4 linked regions of the Homo sapiens genome follow. The protein of the gene in region 2 interacts with the protein of the main gene of each other region in a pairwise test. Each region holds a gene or a part of one and is shown on either strand. Other genes may lie near its edges. The genes, in order: BAG6, LRRC61, LSAMP and ICAM5.

Region 1 (8,023 bases), on a different chromosome or scaffold from region 2:
AGCAGGGAGCTGAGCACACCCTGCACCACTGAGGTAAAAAACTCCGGTGACAGGCTCTCAAGACCCAGGCCTCCAGGACTCCCTGCGCCACCAGAAGGGGAGCCTGGTGGGGGCATGGTCTGCTGCTCTGGGGCAGGTGGTGGGGGTGGAGGAGGTGGGGGTGGTGGAGGGGCTGTCTGTGTTGCCTGGCAAATAAAGAAAGAACAAAGAACAGAAAGTGAGGTGAGAATGAAGACACACGGAAATAATACGGCATCAAGAGGGCACAAACCAACGGGTCTGGGAAGATGGGGAGTTACATTCTGATCTTCACTGCTTAAAGCAGAAGTATGGTAGGTATTTAACAGAGTCAGGCAGCACAACTTACCTACCTCTTCCTCTGAACAGGCTGTCAGAAAGCAGTGACACTAATTACTATACTTTCTTTTTCTAAACCTCATTTTCTTCATCTTTAAAATGAAAGGTTCAGAGTCAATGAATTCCCAGGGCCCCTTCCCCTAACATGTCACTAGGGGCTCTTACCCAGTGGTTATATAATGGCAAGAAGGTACCACTGCCTGGCTGGGCCGGGGGACAGGAAGATGAGGTGAATGGCAAGCCAGCCACTCACCTGCAAGAAGTCAGTCATGCCTTGGAGAAAGGCAGGGACACCAGGCATCGCCACAGTGATGGTGGGAGAAGCCACACCAGACCCTCCAGCCCCTGGCCCTGCAGGCCCTAGCAGGTTCCCCAGAAGCTGAGAGAACTGAAGATCAGCCATGGAGGGTTGAGGGGTGGGTGGAGGCTGGGCAGGCCCCCCAGGAGCGGGGCCAGCTGTGGTAGCTGTGTTGGTGGTGCCAGCACTGGCAGAAGCAGTGGCAGGGGCTGGCGGTGGAGCCATACCTGGGGTCCCCTGAGCTGTAAGAAACCAAAAAAAGAAAGCTGGGCTGAGCATGGTGGCTCTTGGCTGTAATCCTAGCAACTTTGGGAGGCCAAGGCATGAGAACTGCTTGAGCCCAGGAGTCTAGGCCACATAGCAAGACCCCATCTCTACCAGAAAAAAAAAAAGACAATTACTAGCCAGGAGCTAGTACTGCTAGCTACTCAGGAGGCTGAGGTGGGAGAACTGTTTGAGCCCAGGAGTTCAAGGTTACAGTGAGCTTTAACTCACTGGATTGCACCATTGCACTCCAGTCTGGGTGACAGAGCAAGACTCTGTAACTTAAAAAAAAAAGAAAAAAGCTGGCCGGGCACGATGGCTCAAGCCTGTAATCCCAGCACTTTGGGAGGCCAAGGTGGGTGGATCACAAGGTCAAGAGTTCGAGACCATCCTGGCCAACATGGTGAAACCCCCTTCTCTACTAAAAACATAAAAAATTAGCTGGGCGTGGTGGCGTGCACCTGTAGTCCCAGCTACTCAGGAGGCTGAGGCAGGAGAATCACTTGAACCCGGGAGGCAGAGGTTGCAGTGAGCCAAGATTGTACACTGCACTCCAGCCTAGCAACAGAGTGAGACTCCATCTCAAAAAAAAAAAAAAAAAAAAAAAAAGCTGAAACCTGAAGACACAAGACACTACAGCAGCCCCATTCCAGGAAAGCAGGAACCAAGAAAATATGGAAAGAACTGGAAAGTGCCAGTGAGCAGACTAGGAAAGGAGTTTAAACTCTGAGTGGGGAAGAATGAAAACTCACCCACAAGGACTGGCTGCATAAGAAGCTGCCCCACAAGGCCGCTCACCATCTGGGCCAACGAGGCATTGGTACCCAGACCGGCGCCCTGCTGGATAGAGAGCAAGGGAGAATTTCAGACCTGCCCTTCCATGCACCACCACAGGAGTCTCTCCCTAGACTGTTACGCACTAGAACTCCCCGACCCTTGCTCACCAGTGTCCCAGAGACTGGGGGCCCTCCAGGATGGGAAGGCCGAGCCTGTGGAGGAGTGGGCCGGGCAATCACCACCCGGGTTGGAGCTGTTGGGAAGCCTGGCACCTGCTGTCCTGTGGGTGGCAGAAGAGACAGACCGAAGAGGGCTGAGGGCCAGGCCCTTGCCAGCCAGCTGCCACCATGGACTGTGCCCTACCTCCCAAGCCTCCCCTTCCAGGTCATTACCTGCGGCCGCGGAGGCAACAGCTGCCACCATGGCCTGATGAGTGATCTGGTGGGCGACGGCGTGCATGAACTCAGGGGGCAGGGAGGGCAGCTGGATGAGGGTGGAGCCTGGGGGGCGGGTCTGATGTAACCTTGAACCTGGACCCCTTCAACCCACCCACTCAGCCCTTCCCTTTCTCTACCCAGAGCTCAGCCTGCCCTGATGCCCTCACTCTTACCCAGGGTTTGGCCATGACCAGGGGGTCCCAGGGGGCCAGTGGGAGCACTCGGAACACCACCAGGCTGTGTGCCAGAATCTGGGCAGGGAGACAGAGACAGTGGCCCTGAGGTAGGTAGGGCCAAGGCCTAACTATATCCTTCTGAGATCAGGCATACTTCAGGCCCATAATCCCCCAATCAGAAAGCCTGCCTTTCCCTCCATCTAAACAGGGAGAGGTACTCCCTTCACCACACAAACACACCTCCAAAGACAAACCAACCCCCACACCCCCCACATCTGTCTACTTAAGCTTCTGCTCTGGTCCCCAGGCTACCACCACCAGCATGTGCCTCTCCCTTCCCCACCCTGTTCCCTCACACCTCAGCATGAACCTCCCTCATCATGCTGATCCTGCTCTTCTCGCCAGCAACTATTCTCACCTTGAATGTTCATGTGCATCATGACCACGGGTTCCACACTCTGGTGGGAAATCCGGATGACCCTCGGGTGGCTGGTGGCTGGCGGGGGAGCTGGACCTGGCGGGGGAGCCCCCTCAGCTGAGGACTCGACATTGGTAGAAGACGGAGCCACGGATGAGGCCTGCCCAGGACCAGGGGGAGGTGCCTCTGCATTGGGAGTTGGGGGGGGCCGAGTCCCATTTCCTGTCATGGTCACAGTGGTTCCCACATTGATCTGAAAAAGACAGATGGACAGGCAGATGTGAGAAAAATACAAGAGCCTAACCAAGAAAACCTCATGATAAACCTCTAAAGTATCTCCAGCCTTCATCACCATGTTTCCAGTCTCCTCCTTTCCTAACCTCCTTCAGGCCCAGTAGCTACCCTGGGTCACTCTATCAACACCCCTCACTCTCCCTCAGGCCAGACTCCCCCTAACCCACCTGTATGGGAATGGCTGCCTGCTGGAGCACCATGGGGGTGGTGTAGTGAGACATAGGCCGGACCACATGCAGGTGTCGTGGGGGCGTGCAGGCCAGATTGCAGCGCAGGTCAGACAGTGCAACAAAGGTGTTGCCCAGCAGTCGCAGGCTCTCCCCTACCAAGTTGATCAACCGCTGATCCTCCTCCCGGCCCTCGTGCTGCGCACAACCAGCCAAACACAAAAAGGCAGAAAATATCAAGCTGGAGTCCATCTCACTAATAAAAGCAATAATGCCTACTGAGAATACCATGTCCTCCAAAACTTTCAGTTATATCCTTGGAAGTTTACATGTAGACCAAATCTTTGCAAATAAATTATATCTTATTCACATAAGGAACATCCTATTAAAACACTACTATGAATCAGTAAGTCATCATATACTGATCTCCTGTACTTTACATTTTCTAAATTCATTCAGGGGCACAAGGGGTACGATACGAGGACAGTGCTTACAGCAAAGATTATCACCTTCTCTGTAAGGGAGGACAAAATCACTTACAGGTTTAGAGAGAAATTGTTTTGTTGCAATGTGTGTTTTTTTGTTTTGTTTTGTTTTTTGAGACAGTCTCGCTCTGTCACCCAGGCTAGAGTGCAGTAGTGCAATCTCGGCTCACTGCAACCCCCTCCTCCCGAGTTCTAGCGATTCTCCTGCCTCAGCCTCCTGAGTAGCTGGGATTACAGGTGTGCACCACTACATCCAGCTAATGTTTATATTTTCAGTAGAGATGGGGTTGCACCATGTTGGCCAGGCTGGTCTCAAACTCCCAATCTCAGATGATCCGCCCACCTTGGCCTCCCAAAGTGCTGGGATTACAGGCGTGAGCCACTGCACCTGGCCCTGTTGCAATGTTTTTCCAGGGAGGGAAAGAGTTATCTGCATTTCAGCCTGTTCTGTTTTGGGAGTACTGGGGCTGAGGAGAAAGGGCAGGGCCATCAAAGGGCTCACATTGTTATTGTAGTCCGTGGTGGCAGCAGCACCCAGAACCTCGTAGTAGCGCTGCAAGAAGGGCTGGAGGCGACTCTCCAGCCGCTGTAGCTCCTGGAGCACCTCGACATACTCCGCAGGGGAAGGATGGCTGTGGACAAACCCAAGGGGCAATGAGCCAAAGCCTTCCTCAGATTCCCACCCTCACAGTCAACAGGGACCACATGTGCCCTCTTTCTCCCTGGTCTCCCAGAGCCCTGGCCCAATCCTTCTCTGGACCAGCAGAGCTTCTATTCTCTTCAACCTCCGCCTCCCAGGTTCAAACGATTCTCCTGCCTCTGCCTCCCAAGTAGCTGGGATTAAGTTGCCTGCCACCACACCCGGCTAATTTTTGTTTTTTTTTTTTTTTTTTTTTTTTTGAGACAGAGTCTCGCTCTATCACCCAGGCTGGAGTGCAGTGGTGCGACCTCAGCTCACTGCAAGCTCCGTCTCCTGGGTTCACACCATTCTCCTGACTCAGCCTCCCGAGTAGCTGGGACTACAGGTGCCCGCCACCATGCCCAGCTAATTTTTTGTATTTTTAGTAGAGACGGGGTTTCATCATGTTAGCCAGGATAGTCTCGATCTCTTGACCTCATGATCCACCCGCCTCGGCCTCCCAAAGTGCTGGGATTACAGGCGTGAGCCACTGTGCCCGGCCTGTATTTTTTAGTAGAGACAGGGTTTCACCATGTTGGCCAGGCTGGTCTCGAACTCCTGACCTCAGGTGATCTGCCCGCCTCTGCCTCCCAAAGTGCTGAGATTACAGGCATGAGCCACTGCACCCAGCCAAAGCTTCTATTCTTTACTCCCACCCATGAGAGGATAGGGAGAAGAAAATGAACTGCTCCCACCCTCCCCACCACAATCCTGCACCTACAATGGTGAAAGACTAATTCTAAGAAAGAGAGCAGGCCTTCGTGAACTCAGAGGAGAATTCCGATCAGGCTCAGGAGATACCATTTGGATTTCCTTGCCGTAGGGAGAGCAGCAGTTCTTCTCAGCTGCCTGTCCTAGCGTCATTTACCTATACCGAGAGAGCCCCTCCTCGCCCCTCAATGCTAACCCTTCAACTAAGACCTCCAAGTAATCCTTTCCCTCCCTTGCCATGGTTCATTTCCTTCTCCCCATACTTCACTTAGGATTCCCCACCCACTAAAGATTCCCTCCATCTCTCACTTGGGTGCATTTGTTTCCGGGGCAGGTGTTGGGCCCGCTGGGGCTGGGCCAGGAGTGAGCTCCGGGTTCTGGGCTGGGGCACGCTCCTCCACTTCTTCTGCCTCCATGGGCTCCCGGGGAGGTGCTTCACTTTCAACTGGTTCTGATGTTTGAGAGCTCAAGGCTACTGGCTCCGGGGTCACAGCCGGTGGCTGCGGGGGCGGCTGACTGTGCTGCGGTTGGGGCCCTCCTCGACACTGAAGGTAGGGGAGAGTCAGGATACCAAAGGCAGGGTAAGACTGCTGCAGAGGATTACTCTACAGGAGACTGAACAGAGAAAGTATCCTAACTAGACTCCCTGAAGGCATGGCTCTGCAATTTTATCTCCGACTCGCTAGCAACTAGCATAAGACTGACACAAATTAGATGCATAATAAGCATCTGTAATTTTTTTTTTTTTTTTTGAGACAGAGTCTCGCTCTGTTGCCCAGGCTGGAGTGCAGTGGCATGATCTCAGCTCACTGTAACCTCCGCCTCCCAGGTTCAAGAAATTCTCTTGCCTCAGCCTTCTAAGTAGCCAGGCCTACAGGCGCGTGCCACCACACCCAACTAATTTTTGTACTTGTAGTAGAGACAGGGTTTCACCATGTTGGCCAGGCTGGATTGGAACTCCTGACCACACGTTATCCCCCTGCCATGGCGACCCAAAGTGCTGGGATTACAGGCAGGAGCCACCACACCCGGCCACAGCATCTGTAATATTTGTAAATAAATTTCTAACAAAGAGTAGAGATTGTGGTTTCCTTTCCTCCACAAGTTGGTTTCCCAGCCTCCACAAGTTAAGAGAGTAGAATCCTTTAATTGAAAAGAGATGCCATGAGACTAAGTCTGAAACAAACTCCCCAGATACCAGGCACCAAGAGGATTGGCAGAAATGAGAGAGCCTCACAAAGATACTTTTTCTGCCCAAAAGAATGAATACTGCAGAGAAGACTAGATTATGAAGGCCAAACCCTGTGGATGTGGCCAGTGAAGCCCTAACTCCCAGGCTGAGAGAAAAGGGAGAGGGAGGGTGGAGAGAGACCCTAGCCAGCCTTGCCCACTTACCTCCATCCGGGATAGTAAGGTCTGTATATCCCTGATCATGTGCTGAGCCATCACCAGCCGTACCCGGGGCTCACTCTACAATGAGAGAAGGTTTATCAGGGTAGGTTACAGATGAAGCCATGAGTTCTACCACCTACTAAATCAGGTCCCAGCCATCTCTCAGCCAGGTCCACCCCACCTCCCAGCCTCCTTCTCCCAGATCCCCTTCCCTGACCCTCGGAGGCCCCTCAATACCTGAATCGGGGCCTGTTCCATGTTGATGTGAACATCCACAGCAGAGCCGTCACTCTGGGGAAAGGGTAAGGGAAGTTGTTCTGGGAGAAGCCAACACTAAGGCCTCCACACCTCCAATTCATTCCCTGGAGCCCTACCTCCTTTTCTCCTTAAAGACTGAGACCAATAGCACACCACAGGGCCCCCTGAACCCAATCTAAAGATGGAAGCATCTATCTTATTAATTCCCTGGTGCTACCACAACCAAAGCTACCCACAAAAGCCCTCCCCTGTGGAACATAAGCTTACAGGAAGATTGAAGGTTCCAACCATGACATAGCTGTTGGCATTCCGGTCATGAACAGAGGCCCCAGGCCCCCGAGTACCAGGGGGGGATCCCCCACCATGAGTGGCTGAGGCAGACCCCGTCCCAGAAGATGCCCCAGAAGGGAGGTGAGTCTGAGGAGGAGCCCGTTCCACCAGGTGGATAACCTTTCCCCCAACATCTGCAGAAAAATAGACACACACCAAAACATAGTATGAACAGGTAAACCCATGGCCTCAGTTCATCCCTCCAGACAGTAGCCCCAACCTCTGAACTGCCTCCCCAGCCCCCTTACTGTATTCCTGAAGCTTCTTATCATCTTGCAGAACTCGTCCCTGGTAAATGAGCCGTTGTTTTTCAGATGGGATGCTGACAGAGGCAGCAATGTGCTCCTTAAACTCTTTTACATTCATCTGAAAAGAAGAGGCATGCACAGGAATGGAAAGAATGGAGGAAAGAGGAAGAACAAAGACAGACAACCGAGTTGTGGAGGTGAGGGGTAAAAACCACCACAGAATCACTACCCGTTTGTCTTGACCGTGAGATCATTACTGTGCAAACCCTTAAACTAAAGTAACAGCTGTCAAAATACAGACAATAAATTTGGCTTGGCGCGGTGGCTCACACCTGTAATCCCAGCACTTTGGGAGGCCAAGGCAGGCAGATCACATTAGGTCAGGAGTTCGAGACCAGCCTGGCCAACATGGTAAAACCCCTTTTTTACCAAAAATACAAAAAAATAAGCCAGGCATGGTGGTCGCCTGTAATCCCAGCTACTAGGGAGGCTGAAGCAAGAGAATCACTTGAATTCGGGAGGCGGAGGTTGCAGTGAGCCGAGATCGCATCACTACACTCTAGCCTGGGTGACAGAGAGGGACTCCATCTCAAAAAATTAAATAAATAAACTTAATGAAGCTCAGGTTATAGATCCAGGAAAAATAACACGGATGAAAAACAAAAAAAAAACACATGGACATTATATTATCTGTCTGGCATCCAAGGGAGTATGTGTCTAGAGACATCAGTG
Region 2 (8,445 bases):
GGCTGCTGTCCTGGGCCCACAACTGCTCTTGGATGTCACACTGGAGGGGACTTAACTCTCACTTCATGATTGAGGAAACTGCAACCCCAGAGTGTGAACATCCAGGCCTCCAGAGGCCATCTGCAGAACGGGGTCACCCTCCAAAGTATTTTTTTTTTTTTTTTTTCAGACTGGGTCTTGCTCTGTCACCCAGGCTGGAGTACAGTGGCATGATCTACCTTGTTGCAACCTCTGCCTCCTGGGCTCAAGTAATCCTCCCAAACTCAGCCTCCCAAGTAGCTGGGACTTCAGATGTGCACCACCACACCCAGCTAATTTTTGTGTTTTCTGTAGAGACGGGATTTCACCATGTTGCCCAAGCTGGTCTTGAACTCCTGGGATCAAGCAATCCCCCTGCCTCAGCCTCCCAAAGTATTGGGATTACAGGTGTGAGCCACTGCACCCAGCACACCCCAAAATCTTCATCTTAAGACCTACCCAGTTACCCCAGGACACCAATCTTGTTCTGTTTCCCAATTAGCTTTGTCTCATCATAAATGCTATACTCTGCAGATACTCTTGATTCACTCAATCATTTAACAGAAATTCATCAAATGTCTACTATGAGCCAGCACTCTGCCTTCAAGATATGAACAGAGGAGAGTAGCTGCCTGGCTGGCACTTGGGGCTCAGGATGAGACGACAACCTAGAAATGGGCTCATCATTAGACCAGGGGGAAAGTGGGGTATGGTGCTATGAGGCGGGGAGGGATCCCTGGGGGGCCCCCGGGCTGACCTACTGAGAAACAGGGTCTATTACACTGAAGAGCTTAGACCCGTCTTGCAAGGTGTTGTTTACCTTAGGCTATTGCTTCACAATCTTCAACCCTCGCAGGCCCGTCAGGTAGATCTGGGATTTTGTGTCATCACTGGTACAACAGTGACACCACCATGTTCTCTTCCACAGAAGTACTTTAGGATGACAGTGCAGCTGGCACTGTTGAGAGCCAACCTTGAATCCAAATGAATCTAAAACGTAAATTTTAAAAAGAAAGTCATTGATAAATTTCAGTACTTTATAACTAAGAAGTTACTTGTGGCCAGGTGTGGTGGCTCACGCCTGTAATCCTAGCACTTTGGGAAGCCAAGGTGGGTGGACTGCTTTGAACTCAGGGGGTTGAGACCAGCTTGGGCAAGATGGCGAAACCTTGTCTTTACAAAAAAAATACAAAAAAATCAGCCAGCTGTGATGGCCTGTGCCTGTGGTCCCAGCTTCTTGGCAGTCTGAGGCAGGAAGATGGCTTGAGCAGGGAAGTGGAGATTGCAGTGAGCCGTGATTGCACCACTGCATTCCAGCCTGAGCAACAGAGCCAGACCCTGTCTCAAAAAAAAGAAGTTACTTGTGACACACATCACCACAGCTGACAACACATTGGAGGCCTACAACCACAACAAGACAAGATTCCAAGGGCTTCTAAGCTGAAGCACGGCCTTTTGGGCTGCACGCCTGCCCATAGTCGATCATGTGGGCAGCAGTCAGGAAAGCGCCCTAGCCAGGCCACATGGGAAGCAGGCACATCCCTGGGAGGCAAAAGGGAAAGCGGGCCAGGCCGGGGTGACGGCAGGGCGGGGTGATGGCACAATGCATGGAGGAGACTGTGGGGAGAGCTGTTCAGGAGGTGGCCCATGCCTAAGCCTCAAGTGGAAGAGGAGGAATGATGGAGAGCGCCTCCACAGTGAGCCTCTTTCCTCATACAGGTCCATGTGGGCTATTTTGGGGCAAATCTTCAGGCAAGTTTCTAGAGAAACTGAAGGAAAACACCAGAGGGGGCTGCCCAGGTAATGCTGACAATACAGGGAGGTGAGAGGATGAGCAGATCTCAAAGGTGACTGAGAGGCAGAGGGGAGAGACAAGGAAAAACCAAAGTAAAGTGAAGTTAGGGAAACCAAGAAAAGACTTTCCAAAAGCAGTGGTCAGCGGGGTCAAAGGTCCCTTCAGTGGGCGGTACAGCAGGAAGTGGGGGAGAAGCAGGAACCGGGAATGCTGGAGGTGGGGATGGGAGGGAAAAGGCTTGGCTCTGTCCCTAAACAGAGAGAAGGTGACCTGGGAAGAGCGGGGAGGCTAACTACACAGGGAAGAGAAGCTTCCTGGAGAAAGGGATCCAGGGCACAGGCGGTGGAAGGGATTGGCCTCAAGAGACCAGGAAGAACTCTCATTTTTCCTGACAGAGAAAGTAGGATGGGTCTGGTAGCAGGCAAGTCCTGGAGTGCTGTGCAGAAGGGAAGTGAGGCAGCTTATGCCTGAGAGCCAGGCATGTTGATTGCTCACGGGGAGCCGTACATCTGTAAAGGCAGCCAGCGGCTGGCTGAGTGATCTGGCTTAGCCTGGGCTGGGAAGCACCTCCGCACACTGGCTCAAGAAATTAGACCTATTCTTCTCGCTGCTCTCACCAAGCCTTTTCCCAAGTGCGTGCCCAGAAGGAAAGCGGCCACTCTTCTACTTCTCTTGTGCCTGCAAGAGAAGTAGAACCCCACCCTGGGCATTCCATGATTATGCCAGGCCTTTCTCACTCCGCCCAGTCCCTCTCCAGCCCCTCTGCTCTCAACTCCAGCACTGCAGGGGGACAGAGTGTCTACTCCACCCCCACCAGGCAGGGGATTTTAAGCACCTGCTGGGCCCTCAAGTCTCATCTTCCTCCACAACATCTGTGAGAAGATTGAAAGGTGGTGAGAGAAAGGGATAGGAGGAGATGAACGTGTGAAAGGAAAAGAGGAGAGCAAGCCATTGCATGTTTTGGGGTTTTGTCCCACACGCAAATTTGACTACTTATAAAGTCTAAGCAAGATGTTTTAAATAATAATCATGCATCATTAGGTTTCATACTGTGCAAAAAAAATGACACAAAGTGAGATCTGTTACAAACGACACGGCAGCACTCTGCTACTTTCTGGAAGCTTAGGGCTAACAATGGAGTCAGAGCATGGCATCCAGAGCCCGTCTCTGAGCACGGCCGTGATCCTGCTCCAGCACACGCCTCGGTTTCCTCGTCTACATTACGGGAATAGTAACAGCACCCGCCTCATGAGATTGTTAGTGTTAAACGAGTTAATTAATACCACAGTATTTCAGGGCAGTTCTCGGCACAGAGGGAGAGATGGGTAAGGGCTGGCTGTTCCGGAAGATTCTGGCCTCTCCCAGTGTGTTTCGGCGCGAGGGCACCGCTGGCCCAGCAGGTGGCCCCCCGGGGCCGGCACGGGCCCCGACAGCCGCCCCCTTCCCTGAACCTCGGCGGCCCAGTCCCCGCTTACCTGAGGGGTGGAGCCGGCAGCCTGCGGAGCCACTGGCCAAGCTGGGAAGTCCGGCGCAACTCCGCACCGCAGAGCCGGCGCCTCCTCGGCAGGTAAGAGCCGCAGCCCCGCCGCCCGCCGCCTGGCGGCCCCTGACCCCTGGGCCGCGTGCCCACCACCCAACTTGTTGGCCAGCGTGCTTCTCCCAGCGCCGCAGGCCTGAGCTCCCGGAACGCGCCCAGGGGGCCTGGCCAAAGGCCGTAGTGGGCGCTCTGGATTCCGGGATGCGCCAGGGGTTACTTCCGGAAGCGCAGCCTGCGGGGGTCTTCGCGCGCACCCCCCGCCTCGCAGTTGGTACGTTCCTCCTACCTGCGGTGCCTGAGTGCGCAGGCGTGGGCAGCGAGGCGGTGCGGCCGGAAGCGAAGGGGCCGTGAGGTCAACAGTCGGTAATCGTTTATCGGTGCGGCCTTAGAGAAAGGACCTCCAAGCCCTTGTTCAATACATGTTGGGTGGTGGTCACAGGTGCCAGTCTCCGGACGGATGGCGGCCTAGATTTCCTCCCGGACTCGGTGGCACCCAAGGCCCCCTGCACGCCGGCGCTGTGCGTGCCAGGCTGACCGCCCGAGTGCGACCCGGACCTCGTCCGCACGTGCAGATGGAAGGGGCCACAAAGACGATAAGGATCCAGGTCTCCCGCGTGGAAGGCTCATCTATCGGTCGGTTCAGGAAATCCACCCAGGGTGTCTCCTGGTGTTATCAGAAAGGGGTCCCGATCCAGGCCCTAAGAGAGGGTTCTTGGATCTCATGCAAGAAAGAATTCAGGGCAAGCCCATAGAGTAAAGTGAAAACAAGTTTATTAAGAAAGCAAAGAAGTAAAAGGATGGCTACTCCATAGGCAGAGCAGCTCCAGGGCTACTGGTTACCCATTTTTTGGTTATTTCTTGATTATATGCTAAACAAGGGTTGAATTATTCATGAGTTTCAGAGAAAGGGGTGGGCAGTTCCCGGAACTGAGGCTTCCTCCCCTTTTTAGACCATATAGAGTATTTCATGATGGTGTCATGGCGTCTGTAAACTGTCATGGTGCTTGCTGGTGGGAGTGTCTTTTAGCATGCTAATGCATTATAATTAGTGCATAATGAGCAGTGAGGACCACCAGAGGTCCCTCCCATTGCCATATTGGTTTTGGTGGCGTTTAGCCAGCTTCTTTACTGCAACCTGTTTTATCAGCAAGGTCTGTATGACCTGTATCTTGTGCCAACCTTCTGTCTCATCCTGTGACTTAGAATGCCTAACCTCCTATGAATGCAGCCTCATTTTACCCAGCCCTTATTCAAGATGGAGTAATTCTGGCTTAAACACCTCTGACACTGGGGCAAATGCCTGCTGCCTGATGACTCCCACAAGTCCTTAACACCTAACCCAGAGAACATCTGGGCCTGCATCCACTCTGGTGCTCTGCCACTCCTGCAGCTACAAATTGTGTGGGAGCCGAAGAAGTCATGTTCCCTGGACGAGCACAAAATGCCTGTTTGTCCCATGTTGGTTCCACATGTGCACCAAAGTGAACAACTTTTGTCTCCCTGGCTACCTTGAACTTCTTTCCACCTCCTCAGTTGGACATATTCAAGGGGCTGGCCCGGGGGCAGGCTTCCCTAGTCTTCCCAGGGGCAACCTCAGCTTTTCCCATATCTTTCAGATGACCCTTCTCCTGCCCCAAGCAAATTAATGCCAAGCCAGTCTAGTTCTCCAGCTTGGGCTACAGCTGGGACCCCTGCCCAAGAATAGTGATTTTTATCTTTACACTTTATCCAAGTTTTTTATTTTTATTTTTATTTTTTTGAGATGGAGTCTCACTCTCTTGCCCAGGCTGGAGTGCAGTGGTGTGATCTCAGCTCACTGCAACCTCCACCTCCTGAGTTCAAGCGATTCTCCTGCCTCAGTCTCCCAAGTAGCTAAGACTACAGGCGTGAACCACCACACCTGGCTAATTTTTGTATTTTTAGTAGAGACGGGGTTTCGCCATATTGGCCAGGGTGGTCTCAAACTCCTGACTTCAAGTGATCTGCCCGCCTTGGCCTCCCAAAGTGCTGGGATTGCAGGTGTGTGCCACCCTGCCCAGCCATATGCAAGTTATTTTTAATTTCAGTTGATCTCCATGCCTCGGAGATGGAAGTATTAGTTTCTCCATTATATGGATCAGAAAATTGAGACTCACACAGCATGTTACAGTAGGAAATGGCACTAAAAGAAAAATTATTCAAACAATTGTTAAGGTGAGAGACTTTATTCAAGAACAGCTGCAATAGGGATTATGCAATAGGGGCAAAAAAATCAGGCTTAACATCAAATACAAGGACAGGTGGAGATTTATAGTTAAGCAACAGGGTGGAAGTCAGCAGATGGAAAATTACTAAGAGGACACATAAAGGTTAGGGAGATTTTTGCTGAACACAAGCCGAGGTGATCAGATACCAAGGGTAGGGGATTTTTGCTGAACTGACTCAGCAGGATTCTTGCTAAAACTGAACTAAGTGAGTTAAGGACCAGCCCAGGGTCAGGGCCTAGTCAAAACGAGGACTGAGAGGAGCCTGACTCAAGTTTAGTCAAAGAGTGAGTTCTTTTCATGAGCTACCAATGATTTGAGTTGTATTGTCAGAGGTGTCCTAACTAGAGTGACACTATCCTAAATAAAGGCTGGGGAAGGCAAGACCTGCTGGGTTGCATTCCCAGGAAGTCAGCACTCTTGATCACAAGATGTTTATTGTTGAGGAAACAAGTTAATGGAAAAAGGCATTCTTGTTTTTGTTTTTGTTTTGGAGATGGAGTCTCACTCTGTTGCCCAGGCTGGAGTGCAATGCCACCATCTCGGCTCACTGCAACCTCTGCCTCCCGGGTTCAAGTGATTCTCCTGCTTCAGCCTTCGAAGTAGCTGGAATTACAGATGTGCGCCACTTTACCTGGCTAATTTTTATATTTTTAGTAGAGACGGGGTTTTGCCATATTGGCCAGCCTGGTCTCAAACTCCTGACTTCAAGTGATCCACCCACCTCAGCCTCCCGAAGTGCTGGGATTACAGGCTTGAGCCATGGCGCCTGGCCTGGAAAAAGGCATTCTTAATTTAAACTATATTTTGCTCTAAAGATAATAGTCCACTCATAAATTCTTTCTGAAATTAATTGCACAAGAGAATAACAATACAGATAGTCTGTCACAAGCCGATCACAAGCCTTTGTAATAAAATACACTATTCTTAGCTCTAATATCCTACACAAACAAGCATTACATTTGAGGTAGGGCGTTCTTCCTCTTGCTTCCTGAGGATACCCTACTCTAATAGATTAGTTTCTAATAAACCATTTAAACTTTACTGTACTTTGCGACTCACCCTAAATTCTTTCCTGTGCAAGATCCAAGAACCTGCCCTTGGGGTCTGGGGTGAAACCCCTTTTCTGGTAAGAGTACTGTTACATGGGATCCACACTATGGGCTCAGAGTTGGTCCCTTTCCAGCGTTAATCCAGAAACACTCTAAAACAAGGAGTTTCTTACTCAAAAGAGGGCAAAAGACCAGTCAGGGATGGATTGGCAGAGGAAGAACGGAAGGAAATGCTGATCTTCCTGTAGGTACAAAACTTGTCACTGCAGCCAAGCCAAGTTTCAGGAGGGTTGACCTAAAATCATCTCGTTTTGCTAGGTGTTTTACAAAGGATAAATAGGACTGGCTCCTGCCCCTAGAGCTTCCAGATACAGCATCCCTGTTTGCCCTGTTTGCAGGGGTGACAGAAAGTGGGAAGTAGCTACATTAGCTGCTAACTCTGTCTCGGGTCAGGGGAGAGGTTGGTAGGGTTAGCCCCAACAGTGTTTTAAAATGCAGAGTAATTGTCAAGACTGGAGTCTGGGCAAACAAACAATAAATAAATAAATACAAAGTAATTGGATGGACAAAGTGCTTTGCCTCCATCTTCCCAAAGTCAAAGGCACCTGAATTTGCCATCCTGCCCTAACTCTTCCTGGACCATTTCATAGCCTTGTGGAATGTCAGAGCTAGACAGACCCTTAAGAAGTTTGTTCTGGGCCAGGCGAGGTGGCTCATGCCTATAATCCCAGCACTTTGGGAGGCCGAGGCAGGCAAATCACCTGAGGTCAGGAGTTCAAGACCAGCCTGAGAAACATGGAGAAACCCCGTTTCTACTAAAAATACAAAATTAGCTAGGCATGGTGGTGCATGCCTGTAATCCCAGCTATTCGGGAGGCCAAGGCAGGAGAATCGCTTGAACCTGAGAGGCGGAGCTTGTGGTGAGCCAAGCTCACGCCATTGGACTCCATCCTGCCTAGGTAACAGAGTGAGACTCTGTCTCAAAAAAAAAAAAAAAAGAAGAAGCAATTTTACAAATGCTGTGCAGTGAATAAATTTCAGAGTCACTCGACTTGGAACCGGGGATTTTCCCAGTAGAGTGTACACTTTAACTCTTAAATTGCCTAAATTGACAAGACTTGCTCAGTAATAGACTGGGTAAAGATTAAATCCAAATTTTTGTCTACAGCCCAGGTATCTTCCTACTTCAGCAGTGTTTTGGGATGTAGAAGAACCTGGGAAACTTGTTTGAAAATGCAGAATACAGGGCCCACACCCATTATGTGGGTCTGGAAGAAGCCCAGAAAATGACTTTTAAAATAAACCCCTAAGGGAGTGAAATGCATGAGAATCACATGGTTTATGTAAGCTTTTGAGAAACACTGATCTAAAGCAAATTTTTGGGCTCACGGGCCCCCAGAAGAATCTTGAAAAACTCTGTATGTTCTTTGTTTTGTTGTTGTTGTTGCCATTGTTGTTGAGATGGAGTCTCACTCTGTCACCCAGGCTGGAGCGCAGTGGTGCGATCTCGGCTCTTCGGGTTCAAGCGATTCTTCTGCCTCAGCCTCCCGAGTAACTGGAACTACAGCTCTGCACCACCACGCCTGGCTAATTTTTGTATTTTTAGTACAGATGGGATTTCACCATATTGGCCAGGCTGGTCTTGAACTCCTGATCTCGTGATCCGCCCACCTTGGCCTCCCAAAGTGCTGGGATTACAGGCGTGAGCCACCGCAACTGGCAACTCTGTATACTTTAAAGTTGGCATCTTTATTAGTTTTCCAGGACTGCAGTAAGAAAATACCACAAACAGGGTAGCCT
Region 3 (4,637 bases), on a different chromosome or scaffold from region 2:
GGAGTTTACATTTATGTGCATACTAGCAGAAAAGAAGTAAACTATTCTCATTTGCATGTAGCTATGCTGTTCAAATGTCGCCAACCAAAATTTAGGAAAGAATTTGTTTTCACCCAGCATGTACATCTCACTTTTCTCTTGGCAAGGAAGCTGGTGTTAACGTTGGGTTTAGGTTTAACATTTACACCAGCGAAAATGTTTATGAATATTATGGAAAACTTATTTTAAACCTTGATTTCTTTTGAGCACATTTACATGCTGCGTGCTGATTAATAAATTAGGCACCAATCATGTGTAAATCAATGTAAATCACTAGTTTATGTACATAATATAAACTATGTAAACTTCATTTTTCATGCAGTGCCCAACTACTGCTAAGGTTTACTATGATTCTTAAGGAAAAAAAAATCAAATAAAAATAAATAAAAACTGAAACGTTTCACAGTTCAGAATCGGAAGAATTACGACTAAAGCTCCAAATATGAGGTTGCCTTAGCCAAAGGAAGCAGACCCACAGGAACAGTTCAAGGTTTATATCCTGCTCAAGTCACCTCTTTGGTCTTTCAGGATCTAAGTGGAGATTGTCCCAACTGTTGCTGTAGTTGTCTCACCCGACCCCAAAGCAAGGGAAATAGAGGGAAAGGTTTTAAGGGCTATATGTCTGCTGTATCCACTCCCAGCTATCTTCTTTTTACTCCTTTCTCACCATCTAAGATGTCTTATTTAAATAGCTCCAAGGAAGTGACCTAAACCTTGATGAGCAAAATATTACTCAGTTTTTATTTTCCATTCAACAAAAGCAGTGGGAAAGCTTGCCATCTGGATTCTAAGAAATTGTGCAATATAAAAAATGTTATATCCTCGAGAAATATCTTGCTGAGTCACCCTAGGAAATAACTACCTTTTATTTATCTGGTAGCCTAATGTTTCCACACATTTATCCTGAATATTGCAAGTGAGGGACTGAATCATTTTTAATTGGGAGTTATCTTTCTCAGGCATGTTCTCTTGGAGTCTTTTTGAAGTGCCTGACACGTGTAACAGGATGACATATATATCATTCCTACAATATGAACAACTGTTACATAAAAAATTATCAAGGAGATGATTTCAGGAAACAAGTGAACTTTCTGCAAAGACTTATAAAAATTTTAGGTCAAATTAACTTCAGGCTTTAAATGCACTAATCTACCTAAGAGAAAAAAAAAGAAAAAAAACAGGAAGGAGTTTTAAGGGCTCATGTGCCTGTTGTATCAACCCCCAAGTGTCTTCTTGGTACTGCTTCCTCATCATCTAAGATAAACTGACAACTTTAAAGTGAGGTAGAAGGTGTATTGAATTGGGAGTCAGGAGAATTGGGTTCTAACCCCAAGTTCAGCCACAAATAAAGCTGTGAGACATTGGCAAGTCATTTAACTTTCCTGAGTCTTGGTTTTCTCATCCTGAAAGTGAGGGATTCGGCTGACGTCTCTAAAATCTCTTTCAACTCTAACCTTTATTCTGAATAAGAATTTAATATTCACTTAGTGCTGTGCCCAGCACTGTTTGTAAACAGCAGCTGTTTGTTATCTCTAGTTTGGTCTCTGTATTCTCATCACTTCTCAGAACTATCATTCTACCGTCTTCATTTCTAAACCCAAAACTGCTAGAATACAGGGACTCTGGACTGGGTCTGTAAATTTTTTCTGATCAAAACTTTATAGCAGTGTAGAGAAGGGACACATTCAAATTACACTAAGGACATTGACATAGCTGGGGTTGTTTCCTTGTTTATATTATAAAACCTAAATGTGGAACTATATTCTAATAATCTTTCATAGGAAGGAAAATAGCCAGACTGGGTATTATGCATGTAACAAATGAGGACATTGTGCATAAGAAAGGAAACATTAGTTTTCTGTCATCCTGGGCCAAGTACCTCATTACAGTAAATGTGTGTCTTTGGAAACTCTTTGCTTGTGCTGATGGCGGTAAGCATGGGGTCCCAGGCAGGTTCAAAGGCTGAACTGTAAGAAATGGGCAAGACAATACATTTTGTTTTGGAAGGAATTTCTCATGGGATAAGTTTCCCAAAGCTTGAATTATAGGCTATGAAATAAAGCAAATAGATGGAGAGAAAACAAGTATTGTTTTCAAAAAGTACAAGTCAATTCTATTTAAAGAAGACAAGCTGAAAATAAAACAAAAATAAACACAATTTAGGAGGTTACAGAGTTGAAGACAGTATGAATTGTTGTGAAGGCCAAAATCAAATGTGAAAGTTAGGTTCTCTGAGAAAAGGGTAAGCAGAAAGGATGATTTCTCAAGCAATTAATAAGGAATTATTTTCTTGTGCCATGTTCTAGATGCATTGAGCACAGATCCTCTTGTCCTAAGCTGTCCTAGAGGCTCAGGTTAGCATCTATCCAAAGTTGTCCTTTGATTTTATTGTCTGAAAGAACAGAAGGCATCAGAGTTTCCAGTCACTGAAGAGTAGGGTTTGTTCATCACTTCCCAGCAATCACATCACTTTGTGTAGGTAAGGATATATGATGTGCTTAGATTACTTATGAAGCTCTCTCTAAGTGGGAGAATGACCTGTCCATGGGACAACTCCCCGTTTTCATGGTCATTTCAGAAGTACCTCTTTTTGGGCAGTGCTCCTGGATCTACTTCTACAGCCACATTCTACTCTGCACAATCCTCCCTATGTAAAGCCAGGCACAGTACAAATATGCTTCTTGCAAGTGAAGAAAACCCATGGAAGTCCTAGCTTCATGGCACGCTGCAGCAATCCCAAGCTACCAGGAGCCTCTTTTGAACCCACTTCCCTAAGTCTTTGCTCTTCACCAGAGAATGGAAATTGTTCATCCTGGTGAACTGTGGCCAAGTTCTGCTCCCTAAGTATTTACTTGGAGTAGGGAGGTTAAAGGGAAGAAATTCAGGGGGAGAGAAGCAAAAGAGAACACTTCCAACTCCCTCCCCCATCTCCCAATGCTCCCCACCTTCCTTATCACTGCTCTACTGAAGGGTGTATAAATCCTGCTCTTGGTTAGAATTCTCCTTATTAACAGTGTTATATACATATAAATATATATATAAATATATTCCTTTTTTCAGCCCTGTAGACATGAACTGATCTTCCCTTGAAGATACAAACACATGGCCATTTTTTGTTTGGGATTTTTTGTTTTTCAAGGTTTTTCATTTTTGTTTATTAGGTGGATTTTTTTCCCTGGGTACTAGCTCTGTGAAGGAGATAAAAAGCGCAATGTGTGTTAAAAAAAAAAAATTAAAATTAAAATGAAAAAAAGCTTTTTTTCTTTTCTTTTTAAATGTATTTAAATTCTGTTTCTCTCTTCTGTTACTTTACACGTATGAATGCTCTGCTCTTCTGTGATCTTAAAACAAAATGAAATAAACGTGAAAAGGAGATGTGTCTTCATTGACCTGTCAGTGATCTTGTGGTTGACTGCACTGCTTCTTGGAGGTTTTCATGAATAAAAGAGAAAATGAAGCCAATGATATGAATATCATGTAAGGGAAGGGCAGAAATAATACTGAAAAATCACTTGAAGCTCTTCTAACAATGCCTCGTCTGTCACAGAAAGGAACGTGGTATTTACAAGAATTTTCTCCACCTAAGCAAAGAGATTCTGTAAACGTGTTTTTTTTTTCTTTTTCTTTTTTTCCCTTAAGGGACTGAAAGAAATAAGTATAAATTACCACTGAAATGCTATAAATAATTAAGACACTTATGATTGTTAGACTTCAGTGCAACCTTGGGTTATGATACCAAAAACATTAGAAAATATGCTCTTTCTTCAAAGTCTCCATAGTAGTGGTTATCTTTAAGGGTTAGTTTTAATGAGATGCTACCTCATAGCAGTAGAAGGAACTAAGGTACCTTCTACAGCCACCTGTTATTTCTACTTACAAAAATGCAGTTTGTTTTCTATTACTGCTGAGAGCTATGATCTTCACGAAATGTTTCCTGAATCTCTATAGAAGCCCTATTGCATTACACAGGACACATAGAAAGAAAATGAGAAATAAGCAATCTATAGTCCAAAGATCATACATCAGGAGTGACTGGGAGCGTCTGAAGTGCTACTCTTAGGAGTCAAATTGACTTTGAAACACCTCCATGAGAATTAATCCCAAGTTAGGCGGCTGGGGGATGGAATGGAGGAATGAGCACTCATGATGGGCTTCAATAATGGGAAAAGGATCAAACAGAACCAAAATTCCTAGACCCCTCTGGCTCAAAGAAACAGATTACGGTCCCAGTCTCTCCACATTTTGAATTTTATTAAAAAAAAAATCTGGCCTGTAATCCCAGCACTTTGGGAGGCCGAGGCGGGCGGATCACGAGGTCAGGAGATCGAGATCATCCTGGCTAACACGGTGAAATTCCGTCTCCACTAAAAATACAAAAAATTAGCTGGGCATGGTGGTGGGCGCCTGTAGTCCCAGCTACTCGGGAGGCTGAGGCAGGAGAATGGCCTGAACCTGGAGGCGGAGCTTGCAGTGAGCGGAGATCGCGCCACTGCACTCCAGCCTAGGGGACAGAGCGAGACTCCGTCTCAAAAAAAAAAAAAAAAAGCAAACAAACAAACAAAAACTCTGAAAATGTTCTTCTGCAATGAGTTTTTCAA
Region 4 (8,871 bases), on a different chromosome or scaffold from region 2:
TTCCACGAAGTGTTGTCCCTGCATAACCCTTGGACGCCGATCCAAGGAGGTGTCACGCTAGTCGAGGCATGCACTCTGTCTGGGAGCTTCCTGAGCCACCAGTGGCGCCTTTTTCGTCTAAAAACTTAAACACTCTGGACTGCCCGCCTTTCCACGACTCCGCCCAAATACCACGCCCTAGGCTAGGGGCACGCCCACCCGGTCCCTTCCATCCTCCAAGATCTTTCTCCAACCCCACTAACCAGCCTCTTCCCTTTCCCAAAACCTCACCCAAAGGGACACCTCATACCCTACTCCTACTCTTCCCTGGAGGCTGGCCACCCTCCAGACCTTGAACCAGATAGAAATGCACCCTGCGCACCCCCACTCACACTCCACCGTTAGCGTTACGTCCTTGACCGCCTCGCCTTGATCATTGGCCGCCTTGCAGCGGTAAGTGCCTGAGAGCGCCCGAGTGACTGGACCCAGCAGGCCCAGAGCCAGCACGGCCCCGCCGTCGGAGCGCGCACAGTGCACTGAGGGTTCTGGGTTCCCGCGGGCCTCGCAGCGCAGCGTCTGCTCTGGGCCCTCGGGCCACGTCCAACTCCTGGGGCAGTCCGAATCGTCTAGCCGGGGAGCGTCTGCGGGCAGGGCGTGGGGTTACAGAGGCTTAGACGTAAGAAATGGCTCCGCCTCCACGACACGGTGAGGGAGCAGGCGGGTCCTTGGAAGTCACCAGAAGGTGGGGGGCGAGGGGTTATCACCAACTCACATAGGACACGAAGCTCTGCGCTCCTGTTCTTGATCAGGGTCTCCCCGTCCACATCGAGGGTGGCGTCGCAGAAGAAGCTGCGTCTGTCGTCGTTCTCGGTGGCATTTAGCTGAAGCTGGGCGGGCTGCCCCGGGACCGCGGCTGGAACTCCCTCCAGTGTGACCAGAGCTTGGGCCCCAGCTGCGCAGGTTACTGTCACCATCTGCCCCTCGGAGACGCTGGGTTCGCTCAGGGTCAGGAGTGGTGCCGGGAAGCCTGGGGGCGGAGCATTTGGTCGTAGTATACTGACCATACCCCTCCCTCCGGTCAAGGCCCGCCCCTTATCTGCCCGAATCCTCGGGGTGCTGAGAACGAACTAGGGTACGGCGCCCCGCCTCTCAGGCTGTACAGGCTCCTCCTCCCCAGCGATTACGTCTCCGCCCCCACCTGCCCCGCCCCTCGGGCCACGCCTGTTCCGGTACTGAGGTCCCGCCCACTCTTCGCCCCGCCTTCGCATTCCTCTGGTCCCACCTCGGAGCCGCGGAGACCCCGCCTCCTTCCTTACTGTAGATGGTCACGTTCTCCCGGGTCTCCCGGTTTTCGCCCCCCAGGGTGACGTTGCAGACCAGCTGCCTGGCACCCTCCTGCTCTGCGCTAGCTGTGGCTGTGGCAGTGGCCACGAATGCGTCCCCTTCGAGGGTGACATCAGGACTCAGATTCTGGTCCCCCAGTGCGAGGTAGACCCTGGCCTCTGAGGCTGGAAACAGTCCGTCCAGAGTGCAGCTCACGGGCCTTTCCGAGCCAACTTCCAAGAGCCGGGGAGCAGCGAGGCGCGGGGCATCCGGAGACAGGGCTAGGGGTCGAAGAACCAAGTTTGAACTAACTCCGAGCGCTCAATATGTCCTAAGCACTTGACATGCACTATCTTATCGTATTATCATCCTCAAGGCACGGAGGGGGAAACAGCTCAGCCGGCGAGGGTTGAAGTCGGGGTCAGCATTCAGATGTATCTACCTCTAAACCTCCTAAACACCGACCGACCCCACTGGGTCCCCATCTCCTCCCCACACCCACTCACAGAAGGTTCGGAGCTCTCTGGGGGCCGAGCTGTTTTCAAACAGTCCCAGTCCGTGCGGCCGCAGGTCCAGCTCGGCGCGACACGAGAAATTGGCTCCATGGTCCTCCCTCCGAGCCAGTACCGTGGCTGTGAGCACCGCGCCCCGCGCTCGGGGTGGTTCACCGGCGAAGCTGCGGCGGATCAGCTCCTGGGCGCCCCGCAGCAGGGTCAGCGTGAGGCTCGCACGGGGCCCGGCGCCGGGGACCCTACAGCTCAGGGTGAAGTTCTCGCCCACCGGCTGCCAGGGAGGCAGCGGCATCAGCTCTACGCGATCTGGTCGCTCTGCAAGGGGGAAGAGTCCGCAGCTCTTTGAACACCGGGACTTGGAACAGAAGGTGGGGCCTGAAGGGGAGGACCCTGGGACCCAGGGGGCGGGGCCTGGGAGGGAGGGAGAGTAGTGGAGTACGCGCGTGGCCACCCAGAACTCACGGAAAGTGCGAATGAGCCCACGCGCCTGTAGTGTGCGCCGCGCGCAGCGGAAGAAGCAGACGGGCTGAGTCTCCGGCTCGCGAATGTCCACCAGCTGCCGCGCCAACCAACGCAAACCCCTCTGGGTCCCGTTTCGGCGCAGCGAGGTCTCCAGGCCACCGCGCTCCGGCCGAGGGCAGTTGGTGCTGCAATTCAGCCACAGCGAGCCCCCGCGCTCCACGAACGCCACGCGAGGCTGCAGGTCCGCCCAGAAGGGCTCCTGCGAGACCGCTGCCCAGGGAAACGCGGGCTGAGCCTGGGGAGCCAACTCCCTGACATCTTAGCGCCCCTATGTCGAGTCAAGGGTTCTCAGAGGGCGGGGAGGAGGAGGAGAGGCTGCAGCCAGGGAAAGAACCCAGGCGTCCCGCGTCCTGCCCAGGCCTCCGGTTTAAAGGCGCACTCCCAGAGTCTAAACCTCGAGGGTGTCTCTGGGACGTGGTAGCAGAGAGCCATGGTCTCCAAAGCGCCGATGGAGCGGCGGGAAAGCATGGGGGGAGGGCGTAGAGGAGAGGAAAGGTGGGTTCTTGGATGAACACAGCAAGGCTGAGAGAAGGGGACCCGGGATGGGGGATGGGGGATGAACCAGTTCTCAGGGTCCTGGCAGAATGCCGGGATACGAGGAGAGTGCGTTTGCGGCAAGGGCAAAGGAGAGACGAGGCTGGGTCAAGGATCAGGAAGGACCCTACACCCGGTGAAGAACACGGAGCCGGGACGCAAGGCTGGGCTCATGGAAGGAACCGCGGGAACAGCTGAGGGACCCGGTTGCCAGGGCTCTGGGTGGAGCGGGAACAGCGCCTCTGAGTCAGGGTAGTTGGAGAGATGGAGTCTTCGCGGACCGCGAGTGGGGAAGATGCCAGTCCGTGGACCATGGTGCACAGCACAGCGTAAGGAGGTACCCGGGGAGCGGACAGGAGAGACACTGGGTCTCCAGGGCGAAGGGTTGGGTGCGGAAGAACACCTAGGATCTCGAAGCGGGTAGGGGCTATCGAGGAGTCAGGAAGCTGGGGCTCGGGTGTGTGTTGGGGAGGAGGGGGAAGGGGAGAAGACTCAGGCTCGAGGTGGGGGCAGAGGCGTGGGAGCGAGGCGAGGGCAGAGCTGGGAGGGACAGGAGGCCGTTTCTCAGGTCCAGGGACTCCGCCCCCGCCCTGTCCACCCCGAACCAGAGCGGGGCTCTTACCTGAGAGGCCGAAGAGCCCCAGGCCCAGAGCAGCCCAGAGGCCGAGTAGCGCCCGGCGCAGCCCTGGCGAAGGCCCTGGCATCGCCGCGGCGGGGAAAGCACAGGAGGCGAGGAGAGCGCGAGCCGAGGAGCTGGGCTAGAGGACGGCTCCGCGCGGCGCGGCGGGTGGGGTGTGGGGGAGGCAGAGTTGCGCTTGGGGATTGGTTTAACGTTGGTAACTTGGTTTCCAAGGAGGGGGCGGCGGCAGAGGCGGCGGGGGGGCGGGAGGCGAGCGTGCGCTAAGCTCCTGGCCTTGGTGAAGGCGAGCTGGCAGGAGTGAGCGACCCCTGGGGTCTACGTGGAGGCCGGCATGATGGCCCAGGGCCTTCTGGGGGCGACCACGCTCTCTCGCGTCATCCCCGGCCGCGACTCTGGGATCGGGGGATGCTGGGTTGCCCTTCCCAAACCCCTACCCCAGCCCTGGCTGAGATGCCATGATAATAAGCTGGACTCCGAGCCCCGCCCCCACATTTAGCTCCTCCCACCAGCGCCCCTTAGGGCGGGGATACATTTGGGGACTAAGAGAGATTTGGGAGGCACTGGATGGGGAAAGGACAGTTCTAGGGGAGGGTGTGGGGATGCCTCTCTCACTGATCCTTCTCCTTTTGACCCCGCGGAGCCATACCTCTAAGCACCCCTCCGGGTCAGCTCCCGCACGCGACGGAGGGGGCGGGACGAAAGTGCCAGCGAGCCGAGGACACGTGTGCGTGCGCGCAGCGTTCGCGGGCGTCTAAATTAGAATCCGCTCGGCTCCGGGTCTGTATTTACCCAGGGTGCAGCGGGCACGTGTCTACTCAGCGTGTGTGAGCTCGAGCCACCCTGGAGCGCCCCTGAGTCCGCCTTCTGCTCGGTGGGTGGGGGCCCTGACATCCACGCGAGAACAAGGGACCGAGGGTGATGCTTTTGACTCCGCTTCCGGGCCCCAAGCTTTGACACCCCCCACCCCCAACTCCATGCGCTCATCTGGCTGGGTGACTACCAGAACATCGTCAGAATTCGAGTTTGTGATATTCCCTGTGGACCATCTGATCACCCCTTCCCGGCTGCCACCACATGGATACCTCTTCTGCGTATCCACGTCCCTCAATATGTCCGTGGGACCCTCCCCTCCCCACCATTCGTGGTCTCACTCCAGCGTGGTAAGTTATTTTGGAGATGAGTTCTCGCTCCACAGTTGTTTGGCCTCCAGGAAAGCACAGGGTCTGAAGGTGGGGCTGGGATAGGAAACTTAACATCCAATCAGAGCTGCCGCGTGGTGGCGGCGGCGCCAATCAGGAAAGCCATACCATGAACCCCACCCCGCCCCTGCCCGTGGCTCTCCCCGGCCCGCGCTGATCCCACTCGATAAGGCCAGCAGAAGGAGAGGTTTCTGTGACACCCGCTGGGGATACACAGAGTCTGGGGCTTCGGGACCCCAGGTGGGCCCTGAGTGAGGAAACCTCAGGTGCCCTCAGGGAGACAAGGAACTTGGAGAAAGTGATCGCAAAAACAACAACAACAACAAAAACAAACCAGTTCCTCCGAAGAAGGGCAGTAATGCGGACCCTTAGGTCACAGGACAGAGGCTGGTTAAGGAAGCCTTTATTGATTCCAGAGGGTTCCCCCGCCAATATTTATTTTTATTTTTATTTTATTTTTGGAGACAGGGTCGTGCTCTGTCCCCCAGGCTGGAGTGCAGTGGCACGATCAAGGCTCACTGCAACCTCGACTTTCAGGGCTCAAAGGATCCTCCCAACTCAGCCTCCCGGGTAGCTGGGACCACAGGTGCGGGCCACCACACCAGGCTAATTTGTGTATTTTTTGCATAGACGGGGTCTCACTATGTTGTCCAGGCTGGTCTCGAACTCCTGGGCTCAAGCGATTCTCCTGCCTCGGCCTCCCAAAGTGCTGGGATTACAGGCGTCAGCCACCATGTATGGCCATTTCCCCAGATTGTTTCATATTCCTCTTTTTCTCGCTCAGCCGGCATAGAACATCCCCCTTTACGCCTGGGACTTCATAGCTAGGCACTTGCATAGGTACGCAGCGCCCACAGTGAGGAGGATCCCTACAAGGGCAGCGATGGAACCGGAGGCCAAAGCTGTGGGCGCGGGGCTCCAAGCTGGGAGCAGAAGGCGAGAATTAGGAACGGAACACAGGGAGGTCTGTCGACCCGCGTGGAGCTCACGCTTGGTCTGTGCGCCCTCTCGGGGTCATAACTCTCTCTGCCCCCTTCCTCCTAGTCCCCAGGGTTACAGGGGTGCCTCACCGAGCATCAGTGTAATGGGTGCCGAGCTGTTGCGGACCACCAGGCCGTCGAGATTGAGGCGCGCGTGGCAGATCACGGGCTGCCAGAAGTCGCGGGGTCCAGCAGCAAACTCGTAGGTCAAGGTCACGTTGGCCAGATCCAGGCCGGTGAAGCGCTCCAGGCTTTCGGAATAGATGACCCGGCTTCCATGCCTCAGGGTCACCACCAAGTAGCCCACCGGGAACACCTGCGTCACGTGGCAGCGCAAAGTGTATTTCCTGCCCTTTAAGACCGGAGGCTCCAAAATCACGCTGTGGGGCGGTTCTAAGGCAAGGGGGAGCCTCTGAGTGAGGTCCGCGGGCGCTCCCTATAGAGCGACTGTCAACTACCCTTCCCCCACCTCTTCCAGCCCCCTCCCCTCACCCCAGCCGGGACCGAGCCCCTGTCCCTCACTGTAGGCGGTGATCCTGGAGGTGGCCCAGCGTGTTTTTCCTGCGCAGGTCACGAGGCAGTGCGCGAGGGAGCTCCAGGCCCTCACGTCGAGCAGCTGGTAAGACACCCAACCCGGCCCTCTGAGCGTCTTGCCTTGCCGCAGCGGGGTGCGGAGGCTGGAATTCTGCGGCTGGGGACAGCTGTTGCTGCAATTGAGCTGCACTGACTTCCCCGGCTGCACAGCCACGAACTCCGGGCTCATGCGCACCCAGAAGGGCACTGAGGTCCCGGAGGGCGCGAGAGGGCTACCCTTGGGGCTTTGCGCCCGCTTAGTCCGGCGTCCCAGCGCGCTCCCAACTCCCGGGTAGGCGGCCGCCAAAAAAAACAGCAGCGACAGAGGGAACAGAGACCCCATGGCAAAAAGCCCGGACTAAGGGGCCCCGCGCCAGAGAGCCAGGGCCGGCTCTAGAGATAAGGAGGCCCGCAGCCCCGCCTCCTCGACTCCACCCTGGAGAGGAAGGGGAGGCCCCAACAGAGGGCCCGGGAGTACTGCAAAAAGGGATTCCGCTCCCCAGGTCAAGAATAAGATTCCAGGCCTCATTAGAAACCAAATGTTTTTTTCTGGAGAGGAGTCTTTAGTTTTCACTAGAGACCCAGAAGGTCATAGAAAGTCCGATTTGGACCAGAACCTCAGGGTATGGCCATCAACCCACAATGTTTTCTTGGGGGAGGAAGTGGGAGGATCAGGCTGTGGCTGCTTAGAAAGGACTCCAGCTGGATGTGACACCTCCCCTCAACTCACACAAGGCTGAGGCAGTTGAGAAAGCTTTATTAACTAACACAAAGGAAGTCTGGGCAATGTTGCGAGACCCCGTCTCTGGAAAAAAAAAAAAAATCAAATTTGCCAGGTGTGGTGTTGTGAGCCTATGGTCCCAGCTACTCAGGAGGCTGAGGTGGGAGGATCACTTGAGCCCAAAAGGTCAAGACTGCAGTGAACCATGATTGCACCACTGCACTCCAGCCTGGGTGACAGAGCGAGAGCTTGTCTACACATACACACACACACACACGCGGATGAGGCTTCCAAAGCTGGGAGGGAGTCCTCCAATACCTTGGCCCCCTTCCCCACTGCTTGCAGGACCCTGATCACTGCAGGAAACTGGAGCTGCATAGTGCAAGCTCCCAGTGAAATGCAAACAGGACAAGAGGACAAGGCATAGCTTGGGCATATTCCCTGGGCACTCATGTCCAGACATGACCGCTGAGTGTCATTGTGAACACTGGCAGAAATGTATGTGGGTGGGGAGGTGGCTAACAAAGGTGTCAGTTTTGGGGGGAAGGGAGGAATAAGGCCTCACTGGGTAATCTCTGAACCTGTAACCATTACCAGTCCATATAGTGCTTTTGTGCCGATAGAAAAATCACTCCTTCTGGGGAAAGGCAGGTTGGCCAATGAGAAGTCCCAGCCCCATTTGATCTTTTTGCCAGGCACTCTCCTGCAGTGTACAACCTGTACAACTGTACCTGGTGACCTTGAATGTGATTAGGACTGGGAGCTCCGTGAGGCCAGAGACCTATGTTCATTTAGCCTACATAAAAGACACTCAATAAATAGCTGGTAAAATAACAAATGAATAAATACATATCATCAAGGGTTGGGGTCAGTAGACAGCAGTGCCCAAGCTGGCATCCGTCAGGAAGTGTGGGCCTTTGTGTTTTGATGCTACACATGTCTATGGAGGGCCACTTCTTCTGTAAGTCTGTGGGGCCTCAGCATACCCAATAGGCAGCAAGTTTCAGTATTTCCCAGTTGTATGTCCTCATGGTGGGGCTATGTCTCCCCCACCACTTCCCCTCTCATCAGGCTAGACTTTAACATCCATCAATCATGTCTTGAGTCTTGCTCCTTCCTCTTGGCTTAGTCATGTGACTACAGATCAGATGCGTGGCCTAGTGTTTTAGGTGTGCAGGTACCATGGCCCCAAATGCTGTTGTATCTGACTGAGGACAATGCCCTGTCCTCCGGCGTCCCAGGGCCGGTAGGTGTAGCTGCATGGCATATGTCTTCCACTCTGTTCAGTGTGGCACCACTGCCACCAATATGGGAAGGCCGAGGAAGAGGCCCTGTCCCGGGATAGGTTCAGGGAGGCGTGGCTTGTGTGTTCGGTTTCATGGGGGTCCCTTTTTGGGCCTGTTGTAGTCTGTATTTCTTGATCTTCCGCTGGCGGTTATAGAGGTACGTGCTGAGGCCTGCAGTGCCCATTATGACTGCGGCTGCTACCACAGTGATGATGACAATCTCATACCGGGGGGCTGTGGGGAGGATACAACAGGCGGTGAGGATTGCATTAGGTCCATGGCCCCTGCCCCCACCCAGCTCTGCCCGCCGGCTCACTCACAGAGCACATTCACGGTCACCTTGCGGGTGACCTCCCCTTGAGTGCTCCTGGCCCGACAGAGGTAGGTGCCCTCAAGATCTCGAGTGACAGTCACTGATTCCCCGATGGGCAGTGGGAAAGTGCCATCCTTTAGACACTTGAGCTCGGGCAATGGGTTCCCCCAAGCCTGGCACATTGGAGTCTGCTGGGAATTTTCTGGCCACGTCCAGTTTCCCGGACAATCCCTCTCGTCCAGTCGGGGGCCATCTGGAAAAACACGATGAGATGACATGGAGGTGGGTG

The links.
Region 1: the proteins of LRRC61 (region 2) and BAG6 interact in binary tests that used the Homo sapiens proteins (3 or more experiments, as listed by UniProt).
Region 3: the proteins of LRRC61 (region 2) and LSAMP interact in binary tests that used the Homo sapiens proteins (3 or more experiments, as listed by UniProt).
Region 4: the proteins of LRRC61 (region 2) and ICAM5 interact in binary tests that used the Homo sapiens proteins (3 or more experiments, as listed by UniProt).

What each region holds. Positions count from the first base shown.
Region 1 is NC_000006.12:31,642,219-31,650,241, forward strand, and holds part of BAG6 (large proline-rich protein BAG6), read right to left. Parts: intron 7,410-8,023; coding exon 7,292-7,409; intron 7,178-7,291; coding exon 6,981-7,177; intron 6,747-6,980; coding exon 6,693-6,746; intron 6,534-6,692; coding exon 6,459-6,533; intron 5,609-6,458; coding exon 5,373-5,608; intron 4,306-5,372; coding exon 4,176-4,305; intron 3,387-4,175; coding exon 3,189-3,386; intron 2,981-3,188; coding exon 2,728-2,980; intron 2,412-2,727; coding exon of another isoform or gene 2,385-2,411; coding exon 2,307-2,384; intron 2,197-2,306; coding exon 2,089-2,196; intron 1,977-2,088; coding exon 1,864-1,976; intron 1,760-1,863; coding exon 1,672-1,759; intron 898-1,671; coding exon 611-897; intron 186-610; coding exon 1-185. UniProt on the Homo sapiens protein: ATP-independent molecular chaperone preventing the aggregation of misfolded and hydrophobic patches-containing proteins.
Region 2 is NC_000007.14:150,318,404-150,326,848, reverse strand, and holds the start of LRRC61 (leucine-rich repeat-containing protein 61), read right to left. Parts: upstream 3,495-8,445; 5' UTR 3,289-3,494; intron 1,009-3,288; 5' UTR 839-1,008; intron 1-838.
Region 3 is NC_000003.12:115,801,161-115,805,797, reverse strand, and holds the end of LSAMP (limbic system-associated membrane protein isoform 1 preproprotein), read left to right. Parts: 3' UTR 1-3,424; downstream 3,425-4,637.
Region 4 is NC_000019.10:10,284,747-10,293,617, reverse strand, and holds the start of ICAM5 (intercellular adhesion molecule 5 precursor), read right to left. Parts: upstream 3,667-8,871; 5' UTR 3,575-3,666; coding exon 3,493-3,574; intron 2,547-3,492; coding exon 2,277-2,546; intron 2,130-2,276; coding exon 1,809-2,129; intron 1,584-1,808; coding exon 1,296-1,583; intron 1,007-1,295; coding exon 752-1,006; intron 621-751; coding exon 372-620; intron 1-371. Other genes in the region: ICAM4 (intercellular adhesion molecule 4 isoform 3 precursor), read right to left, coding at 5,434-5,632, 5,780-6,005, 6,212-6,605; ICAM1 (intercellular adhesion molecule 1 precursor), read right to left, coding at 8,331-8,503, 8,590-8,835. UniProt on the Homo sapiens protein: ICAM proteins are ligands for the leukocyte adhesion protein LFA-1 (integrin alpha-L/beta-2).